2 separate regions of the Homo sapiens genome follow, and region 2 is linked to region 1. Evidence: fine-mapped expression QTL. A gene starts in region 1. The other region holds a variant in brackets. All regions are shown on one strand. Distances are from middle to middle. Region 1 holds the start of LINC03014 (long intergenic non-protein coding RNA 3014). Region 2 overlaps LOC105375114 (a long non-coding RNA gene).

Evidence for each region.
Region 2: its variant is fine-mapped to the expression of LINC03014 in whole blood (INTERVAL, PIP above 0.99).

What each region holds. Positions count from the first base shown.
Region 1 is chr7:146,966-152,342 of GRCh38, forward strand. LINC03014 (long intergenic non-protein coding RNA 3014) reads left to right here and starts at 2,753. Exons shown (of 2, transcript NR_108065.1): 1 at 2,753-3,167. LINC03015 (long intergenic non-protein coding RNA 3015) reads right to left here and starts at 2,473. Exons shown (of 3, transcript NR_134325.1): 1 at 2,364-2,473; 2 at 1,567-1,653. RefSeq lists an enhancer at 2,204-2,498.
Region 2 is chr7:112,497-117,873 of GRCh38, forward strand. It overlaps LOC105375114 (a long non-coding RNA gene), which reads right to left. Exons shown (of 3, transcript XR_926959.3): 3 at 160-3,401. Among named protein-coding and RNA genes, the nearest start is that of LINC03015, 34 kb to the right of the region's middle. The variant G/A (reference allele first, on the strand shown) is at 2,348.

The sequences.
Region 1 (5,377 bases):
GGTCCCCATAAACCAGACCACCTAAACTCAAATAGACCATTCTTTGACTTAACTCAGTGGTCTTTTCGTTAATTCCCTACAACAGACTCTCTATAACACCTGATGTTTTCTCCATAGGCCTTAAGTGCCAGCATCTGCACAGGTACTTTCCTGTTTAGCCAATTCTATTTTTTAGCATAACTTTCACAAGAGAATTTAACATCTGTTGTGTAGCCTTTACAGTAGAATCTGCTACAGAGTCTACCATGAGGGATATGTTTCTAGTCATTGCCTTTTTAATTCCAAACCATGGAAAAAGGACCTAACAAATGATGCCCTTCTAGAAGAGGGAAGGCCTCTTGGCAATGGTCTCTTTAACCCATGCTGTGGGTTAAGAGGAGTGAACCAATGTTCTGCTTCTGAATGATTATGAGGCACCATATGTACCATTGAAGTTTCTCACCTATGATACACTGGGCCTTCATCTTTATCTATCAAGTTATAAGATTATCCATGTATAAAGCTGGCTGCAAAGCCCTTCACAAATAAAAGTATACCCCATAAGTGCACAAAACAGACCCCCTTCTCACTTCTGTTGTTCACAGAGGCGGAAGCAACGGAAAAACATTCAAAGATAAGAGTCTCATGATAGTAAGAAGTCTTGATCCATGATCTTCAGAAAGAGCTGCTCACATCAAGGATGCCATCTTCTTCTGGGGAGAAACTTCCCTGATTAGCTTTACCTTAAGGGTTTCAATGGATGTAGAGTTCCAAGAGTGACCCTGCTCAGTTGTGAGATTATGACCCCAAGGTTCAAGATCCTGATGTTTTGTTGCAGTGATGATGCCAAGGGCAGCGTTTCTCTGATGTTCTCAGAAGATCCCATCTTTGGGTTCTAGATTGTGAAGGGGTTGATTGTCCTCAGTGAACCATAAAAAGCTCTTTACCTGGTGAAAATACACTGATACATAGTAATCTACTGTTATAACATTAGCCCTCCTGCATGGGAAAGCTTTAGTACAACCAGAACACATACATTGAAAATGACAACTGAATGAAACCCCTTTATAAATGTTTAAATGCCTCATCAGGTAGCCAAATGTACATGAAGCTTTGATTGACTTCCCAGGAGTATGGGTTTGACAAACTAAACATTGTTTATAAACTATTTTAACAATCTGTAAGTCACCACACCAACATATTTAATTTGGATCATTTTATCTTTTCCAGGATGAGTCATGGAATGCATAACTTTTAATAACAAAAGCTTTAAGGACTCACGAAGGACAAGGCAGCCATCTTGGTTCTCCATGAGTCCATGCTTAACATCGGACTTATGTCCTCTTGGGTGCCAGTTGTTTCTCCAAATTGGGCACATAGCATGGATAACTGATGGGTTATCACAGGTAATTTGACTTAGACCATGGAGTTCATTCAAATTGTATATCTAAACAATTTCAGTATAGGCTGATTAAGTATGCAAACCTGGTGAAGCATTTCCTCGGTATTCAATTAATTTTTATTCTATTTGGGTTAGCAGTTTTATAAGCCAGTCAGTCTTTTCATTAAAGTTTCAGCAATTCTTACCCAGTCCAAATGATGTGATTTTGAAGTTACTAGAAACCTGTATTCCACAGTGCTTTTCAGGGTCCTCCCCATCCGTTCACGAACCTCCTAAAAGACACCATGTTCTAGGATTTTTGTGTGCTTGTGAAGTTTTCAGAAACTACATCAGCATGAAGCAATTAACTGCGGAAATGACTTTAAATACTCAAAAAGACACAATTGACAAAGAAATTTGGTTATAACAACAACATAACCATAATTATGATCGGTAGCATATACTCAGAAAAATTAGAATTTTAGAAATCCCATACAACTTTGGAACATATATTAATATCATTCACTAAAATATAACCTGAAGAAGGTTAAATTTTTTTTTTGACACTATTCTGTATCGAAAAGTCCAAAATGTTTCTTAAAAAGTAACTAAAAAAACACTGGAGTAATTAAAGGACACTTCCTGTGCAGGGGATGGAAAAATCTCAACAAAAAAGGAGCGCAGAAGAGCCTGGCTAGGCGGGAGAACACGGTCAGGCCCGCAGGAGACGCCGCGGCACCTGCCAGAAAGAGAGCCGCAGGCCAAGACCAGGAGACGCGAGAGAGGTGGGCAGGGCTGCCCGAGAGACCCAGGCGGCCATTGCCCGCCCTGCGTCTGCGCCTGCGCCGGAGCCTCCTCCACACTGCGCCAGCGCCGAGTCCGGCCGCCTCCTCATTGCGCCGGCGCCGGGGCTTCCTCCACACCGCGCCTGCGCCGATGACAACCCGCCTCTACAGGACGCCTGCGCAACGCCATAGTCACCTCATCAGCTCCGTGCACTTACGAGTCTCTCTCTGATCGACCACGTGTTCCTGTCGGCTCACAGAGGCCGCCTCAGGGTCCTCCCCCATTGTCTTCCTCGCACCCTCCACTGTTCCCGGCCCTTCACTCTGCGCTTGCGCAGGAGTCGCTCGCTCCTCTCTGCGCCTGCGCAGAGGCCACCTCCTCCCCGCCCGTCCGCTCCCTTGGCGTCGTCTTGGGCCGCGCCCCGACCCCTTCTGTTTACGCATGCGCAGGAGCCGCCCTGCGCGGGTGGGGGGCTGAGCCCCTGTGGCTTCAGGTTTAAAGGCGCGAGCGCCACCCACGCAGGCACAAGGGCTCCTAGTCGTTTTATTTTTAGCGTAAGGTTTTCCTCTTTAACAAGGAAGTAAAAAAAAAAGTTGTGCAATAAATATTAATCGTCCTTATATGTACTCGGGAACGTTCGTCCTTTAGGTTTTCTCCTGGCGCATGGGCGCCGCCAATCATTTCGGGGCTTATTTTGGTTCTAAAGCCCGGGGCAGCCAGGCCTCCCTGCCTGGCCTCGGCGGGGACGCGGGACCTGGGGCCCCGGACCGGGCCTAACCGCCCTGGCCGGTCCCCACTGATGGTGGCGGTCGGTCCTGATCGTCCTGATGGCAGCGACCAGGCTGGACTCGGGCTGTGCAGGGGCGAGGGGAGCAGGGCGGGGTGACGCCCGGAGAGCGGCCTGGAGAGCGCGTGCTTCAGAAGGCGTGGGCACCCTGTCCCCTTTGCAGATGGGGATGCAGGCCCTGGTGGCGGTGGAGGGGAGATGGGGGCAGGGACGTTGCCGGGCAGAGGAAGCTGGGTGAGTGTGCACTTGGTCCCCTTTGCTCCTCCCTGGGACTTTGGGCTCTATAGGGCAGCCTCCGAGGCCCACGTGCACACTCGGTGAACCACAGTCCAGACACAGGCAGGGCGGCAGGCCAGGGAAGGAGAGGCCAGGTGTTGGTGCATGGAGAGGCCAGGTGTTGGCCTGGGGGTGCTAAGTGAACCCCCAAGGTCGCGGAGACAGTAGGGCAACAGCAAAACGAGCTCTGCCGTCCAGGGCGAGGGCCCGGAGTCCTCCCCAGGGGTGGGCTGCAGAGAAGCCCCTGTCCAGGCCCTGCTCACCTGCAAAGTGCTCCCGAGCTCCTGTGCCCCCAGCAGCAATCCCAGCCCCGCTGACACCCAAGCTTGTCACCCGCTGGGTTTCTTGAGGTCTGAGGACCGTGGCTGAGGGTGCATGGGCGCTGGGATGGAGGGGGATGTCCTGTCCCAGTCTGTGCTTATTAATTGTTAAAGAGGGCAAGGCTGCTTTTATTCAAGGTGGGGGGGCTGCTAAAGCGAGATGTTGGGTTAGGGGAGGCAGATCCGGCTCAACTCCAGATAGAAAAAGTGGGAATTGACAGCCCAGGCGTAGGGTCGGGAGTGGAGAGAAAATTACTAAGAGGAAGGGTCAGGGGCAAGGCGGGTTCTAGCTGCATAGACAGGATTTTTGCTGAAAAGGCAGGCAGTGTGGTCACAGACCGAGGGTGGGAGTTGAGGACTTTGATCAGGGACCAAGAGTAGACGATTTTCACTAAACCGACTCAGCAGGATTCTTGCTAAATCGGCCGAAACCGGCCAAGGTCAGGGACTGGTCACAGGGAGGGCTCAGAGGAGCCTGACTCGAGTGTGGTCAAAGGAGAGAGTCTTTGTCATCTTTTAAGAGGCGAGAGTGACGTATTAGTGAGAAACGGTGAAGGGATCAAGCTCAGGCCAGCAGCCCCGAGTTTGAGATGAGGACAGGCTGGGTCCAGGAAGGGCTGCAGGAATAGGGGGCACCTGAGCCTGCAGAAAGCGGGGAGCCCAGCCGCCAGAGCAGGCACCCCCAGGCAGACCTCAGTGTGTCCTGCCCTGTGGGAGTGGCAAGGCCAGACCAAGCTGGATGTGAACCAGTCCCAGAACACCGCCTAGAATTTGGATTGTAATTTGTTATCGATGATATTGCTGCTTGGTCTCTCTCCTCTTCCTCCCCACCCCCACCCAAGATGGAGTCTGGCTTTGTCCCCCAGGCTGGAGTGCGATGGCAGGATCTCGGCTCACTGCAACCTCCGCCTCCTGGGTTCAAACAATTCTCCTGCCTCAGCCTCCCAAATAGCGGGGATTACTGGTGCGTGCCACCACACCCAGCTAATTTTTGTATTTTTGGTAGAGACGGGGTTTCATCATGTTGGCCAGGCTAGTCTCAAACTCCTGACGTCGTGATCCGCCCACCTCAGCCTCCCGAAATGCTTTGGGATTACGGGTGTGAGCCGCCGCGCCGAGCATGGCCATCGTGGCTACATCAGTCCCGGCTAATAGAGATTTTAGCACACTCAGATTCTATTGGCTAATAAGATTTAATTATAATTCTGGGGTATTTAACAATGTCGTTATACAGTCTTCATTGTTGCAAATGGAGAATGAAATCGGGTGCATGTGACACTAATATGACCTGTTCATGCTCTGTCACTTAAACGGAGTTAAGTAACATAGCCCTGAGCAGGAAGACTCCTTCCCCACTTCTGTCCAGGAGCTCCTTACTCGATTCTGGGGAACAGAAAGGCTTTCAGCGGCCAAGGGGAGTGACAACAGCCAGACATGAGACACCTCCTAGAGCCCTTTGGTGTTACCCTTTCCGGTCCATCAGCCACAGTGTCCACCCCAGGTAGCTGGGTCCTGAGTTCACCGTCTCAGGACATTTTTCGACCTGGTTTGTCTGAATTATTATTATTATTGATCATTGAGACAGGGTCTCAGTCCATCGCCAAGACTGGAGTGCAGTGGTGTGATCCTGGCTTACTCAGCCTCCCAGGCTCAGGTGATCCTCCCAGCTCAGCCTCCTGCGTAGCTGGGACCACAGGCAGGCACCACCATGCCTGGCTAAATTTTTTGTATTTTTTGTAGAGACCAGCTCTCGCTATGTTGTCCAGGTTGGTCTCAAACTGCTGCCTCAGCCTCCCAAGGTGCTGGGATTACAGGCATGAGGGACCAAGCTCAGCAATCTGAATTATT
Region 2 (5,377 bases), 34 kb before region 1:
CAACCTTGTTCTTATTTTTCAAAGTTGTTTCTGGATATTTTAACCCTTTTGTCTTTCCATGTAAATCTTAGCATCAGCTGTCTCATTTCTTCAAAAGGACCATAAGTGGCACGGTAGTATATTGATGAGCAAAGACATACAATCGATTTTTCTATGAAAGTTAAATGCTGCAACTTGGCTAAACTAATTTTATTTGTACTAATAGTTTGGTTTTTATGGTGGTAAAATTCACATATTATAAAATTCACTATTTTCACAATTTTGAAGTGCACAATTCAGTGGCATCCAGTGCGTTCACCACGTTGTCGGCCCCAGGACATTCGCATCACCAAGAAAGGAGACACCACATCAATCGAGGTGTCACTCTCTGTTCCTCCCTTCCCCCAGCTCCTGTCACCACTAACCTGCGTTCTGCCTCTTTAGATCTGCCCATTTCGTATAACTGGAATCATATAACATGCGGCCCTTTGTGTCCGTCTTCTTTCACTCATCATGTTTTCAGTTTCAAGGTTCATCCATATTGTGGCATGTTAGGGCTTCATTCCTGTTTGTGGTTGATGAGTAGACCACGCTTTCTCAGTGCCTATGCTAGTTGTTTGTAAGTTTCTTAAGATACTTCCTCATACATGATTCATGATATCTGCATAAAGAGGCAGTTCTTCTTCTCCCTTTCCAGTGTTTATGCTTTAACTTTAATGTCATTTAAAGCTACCTGTGTCTCTGTTCTTCAAGTGCAATTTTGGAAGACAGCATGTGTGTGGGTCTTGTTTTCATATCTATTCTGACAACCTCTGCGTTTTACCTGAAATCTTTGGTCCACTCATATTTAAATAAGTATTGACATGGTTATGTCTGGGTCTGTAATTTTATGCCTCGCTCTCTATACATACCCTCCAGTTCCCCCCTTTGTTTCTCATTTCTTAACTTTTTTTAGGGTTACGTGAATATTTACTGATTGATTTTTCTCCTCATTATATTTTGTGAATATACGTGAATATTTATTGATTGATCTTTCTCCTTATTAAGCTTTTTCAGCATGGTATCACCTCAGTAGTAGAGCATAATCAGTCCTAGACTAATTTAGGCCCCACCCAAAAAAGCTTAAAATCAAGCCTCAAATATATCAAATTGTTTCCAAGTAAAGTAACTTCATCCCTGAAAAGTTTTAAAATAATTTTAGGAGTGCAAAACTATCCAGGATCTAACAAGGAAAAGTACATGATGTCTAGCATACAGTAAAAAATCACCAAGTATGCAAAGAGGCAGGAAAACACATCATGTAATGAGGAATATCAACAAATTGAAACTAATTCACAAATGGCACAGATGAGGGCATTCCTAGACACAGATGAACTGTAGTTATTATCACTCTATTCCACATGATAACGTTAAGCAGAGATATGAAAAACATTAAAAAGTCCCAATTCTAACTTTTAGAGATGAAACCATTTCTGAGATAAAGAAAATTCACTGGATGAGATGATGAGATTAGACAGACACTACAAAAGGAAAGATTAATGAACTTAAAGGTATATAATAGAAACCATCCAAAGTGAAACACAGACAGAAAATAGACCCCTTCAAAAGGAGCAGAAAGCTAATTGGGGGGCAACTTCAATTGGCCTAAAATTCATACATTTAGAGTCCCAGAAAGAAAACAAAGAAAAAAAAACAGAAAAAAAAGGAGGACATAATGACTGAAATCTTTTGAAATTTGCTTTTTAAAAGCTACATATCCCAGTCCAAAAAGTATGAAGTACGAAGAAGGCACATCTTAACCAAACTGCTTAAACTGGGTAAGAACGAGACAATCTTAACAGCAGGCAGAAGAAAAGAGACGTGCTGGGTACAGAGGAACAAAGACAAGGATGACGACAGGTTTCTCCTTGAAAATGAGGCGAGCTAGAGGACAGTGGAACAAGCTCTGCAAAGTACTGCCGGGAAAAGCCTGTTGATTTGTGATTCTGTACCTGGCAACAAAGGTAGAAACAGGGTGAGATATCAAGTTTTTCAGACATATAAAAGCTAAAATATTAATCATACCAGCAGATAAGCACTAAGAGATATTAAAGAAAGTCCTTTGGACAAGAGGAAAATGACATTATAGGAGACCCGATAGAAGCACAGGAAGGAAAAGCATGTTTTGCTGGGTATAGAACATGTAGAGAAATAAAATATGTGCCCACAAGGACATGAAGGAGGGCAGGGAATGGAAGTGTGCTGCTGTAAGGTTATTAAACCATCATGATGTAGTGTAATATTATTTGAAGATAGATTATGATAAGTTGAAGGTGCACACTATAAACCCTAAAATGTATACACACACACGCACACATACATATGTACA[G/A]ACAGAGTTATGGGGAATAAGCCAACAGAAGTGATTAAATGGGATGATTAAAAAATACCCAGTCCAGAAGAAGGCTGGCTAAGAGGAACAGGAAACAAAAAGTAGACAGGATAAATAAAATGCAAATAGCAAGATGGTGGTTTAAGTCCAACCATTATCAACAGTGATGGTAGATGAAAATGATCTATAACCATTGGTCTAATTCAGTGGCAGTTTGTCAGACTTAATAACAAAGCAAGACCCAACTAATTGCTGCCTACCCAAAACCCACTTTAAATATAAATTCACAAATACATGAAAACTAATGGGATTTTAAAAGATACACTGTACTAACACTAGTCAAAAAAAAAAAAAGCGGGAACAGCTATATTAATATTGAACAATGAACACAACCAGCATTATAAAGAAGGTCATTTTGTACCAGCCTTTAGCTGGGCTTCTTTTATCTGCTTTGAGTGTGTGCAGTTCAGGGCCAGTCGGAAACATGAGTAGAGTCCGCCAAGTTTCCCCTTCTGGACGCTCCCCCCCTCCACTGGCCACAGCTTCCCCAATTTCGTCCTGCTCCTGTTCCAGGCCATGAAGACTGTGGTCTTCCCTGAGGACCCCCAGCTCCTCATGCCCTAACTACATAGTGCTCAGGCTAACAGCCACGGTCAAAGAGAACGTGCTTCCTGCAACTCCTTTATCCCCCGTGTACACCCCAGGTCCGTCTTGCTGTTCACTCTCCAACGCCCACAAGCAGCCTGTTTGCATTGTGTACAGATTTTGAAGCTGTTTTCTGTAAGGGAGTGGGTTTGGTGTGATCTTACAAAATCCTTACAGGAAGCAGAACCAGCAATTACCCATCCACTTTTAGAACTGCCTTGTGCATGAACCTTTTGTCCTTTGAGTCACACTTGGAAAAAGTGTAGGCTTCGTCTGTTGCAAAGGTCATGGTGGCTTCACTCCAAGAAACTTGAGAAACAGTTATTGTTTTAAACAGGGCACAACTGCAGTGTCCTGAGGAGCCCTGCATGGCCATGGAGTTTGCTGGATGAGGGATATGGACGGGCTCCTGCAGCGAGAACAGAGACAGAGAGGGAGAGGGAGAGACAAAGAGGAGACAGAGAGGGAGAGGGAGAGACAAAGAGGAGACAGAGAGGGAGAGGGAGAGACAAAGAGGAGACAGAGATACAGGCAGAGAGAAGTGGGAGAGACAGAGGAGAGAGAATATCTGGCAAACACATTCCACTTTCGGATTCCTGCTCTGGACATGGAGGCCTGCTCTTCTCCATAAGCCCTCTCCCTTCCTTCAACGTCCTCGGGAAAAAGCGAAGCAGACCCTTTTCCCTCCCTCGCCCTCCTTGCCCTCCACAGGGGCTCTTTCCCATAACCTGCTGGCTGGTCTCTGTGGCTGAGTTCTGCCCATCCAGGAATGGACTCACCAGTGTCCCGGTCCAGCCCCATCTCCCCTCCACACTCAGGAGCTCCTCGGGTGAACTCGGTGCTAGCCAGGCACTCAGCACCAGGCTCGCAGGCTTCTTCCCAACACCTCCAGCCTGTGCCCCACCTGCACCCACACCCATCATTCTGCTCCGGGCTCTGCCCCGAGGCCCCCAGTTCCCTGAGCTCGCCCATTCTCTGGCCTTCACCCACACTATGGCCTCTGCCTGGCCTCCCTCAGCCGTGTGGACGCCTCCTCTCAGCATCTAGGATCTAGGCCCATCTCCACGCCGTCTCAAAGACGCTGGGCTGCTGCCCACTGTGAGACAGGAGCCCCCTCTCTGTTCCACACCACCCTTGACAGGCACTTACCAGGCCCGTCCACCTCATCTGGTGGGTCGTGTCCGTCCTTTCATCAGATAGCAAGTCCCTCAAGGCCCAACTCCCTGAGCCCCCATCCCCCTCTTTGTCTCTCCTCCAGGGATTAGTGTCACCCCTGATCCCACTCCGGCTTGGCCTCACCCACAACAGCTGGCACCCACCTTGGCCCTCCTGGCTGTGGCCTTGACCCCTGGTGTTCATCCTGGCTCAACCCCTGGCCCTGGTTCTCTTGGTGCCACCTAAACAGTCTACACTGTCTTGTGTTCACCTTTTCTTTAATTATTTGTTTAGCAGAGCAGAGCTGATTTTACAAATATAAATCCGCCGGGCGTGCTGGCTCACCCCTGTAATCCCAGCACTTCCGGAGGCCGAGATGGGTGGATCATGAGGTCAGGAGTTCGAGACCAGCCTGACCAACATGGTGAAACACTGTCTCTACTAAAATTACAAAAATTAGCCAGGCGTGGTGGCGCGCGCCTATAATCCCAGCTACTCAGGAGGCTGAGGCAGGAGAATCACTTGAATCCAGGAGGCGGAGGTTGCAGTGAGCTGAGATCACGCCATTGTACTCCAGCCTGGGCCACAGAGCAAGACTCTGTGTTAAAAAAAAAAAAATATATATATATATATATATATAATTGTTTGACCAAATGCAGTGATTTCTCCCAGTTTGAGAAATAACTCTTCTTTATAAAGTCATGTTTTGGTGAAGCAGGGCTGGGTAAACCTGCGCCACAATGGGTGGGAGCCCGCAGGAGACAGGCCCTCGTCCAGCAGTGTCCAGACAGCTGCATGGAGCAGAACACGCAGCCCTCACCCTAGAGCCCCGACTTGGGTCATGGGGGCTTAGAAAGAAAGAAAGGAAGAGACAAGACTGGATAAGAACCGGGTTTGGTCAAGGAAAGGAGGGGTGGACGTGCAAAGCCCTCCCGTGCGGGAGCCCTGGGACGGGGGCACCATCCCACAGCCCCCCGGCAGCCGCCGATCCCCCCGACACAGCCCCCCGGGAGCCGCCGATCCCCCCGACACAGCCCCCCGGGAGCCGCCGATCCCCCCGACACAGCCCCCCGGGAGCCGCCGATCCCCCCGACACAGCCCCCCGGGAGCCGCCGATCCCCCCGACACAGCCCCCCGGGAGCCGCCGATCCCCCCGAGACTGGCCTGCACCTGCACATCTGGGGGGCGGGGCCCCGAATTGTCCTGCCACAGTGGCCCCGCCGGCAGGGA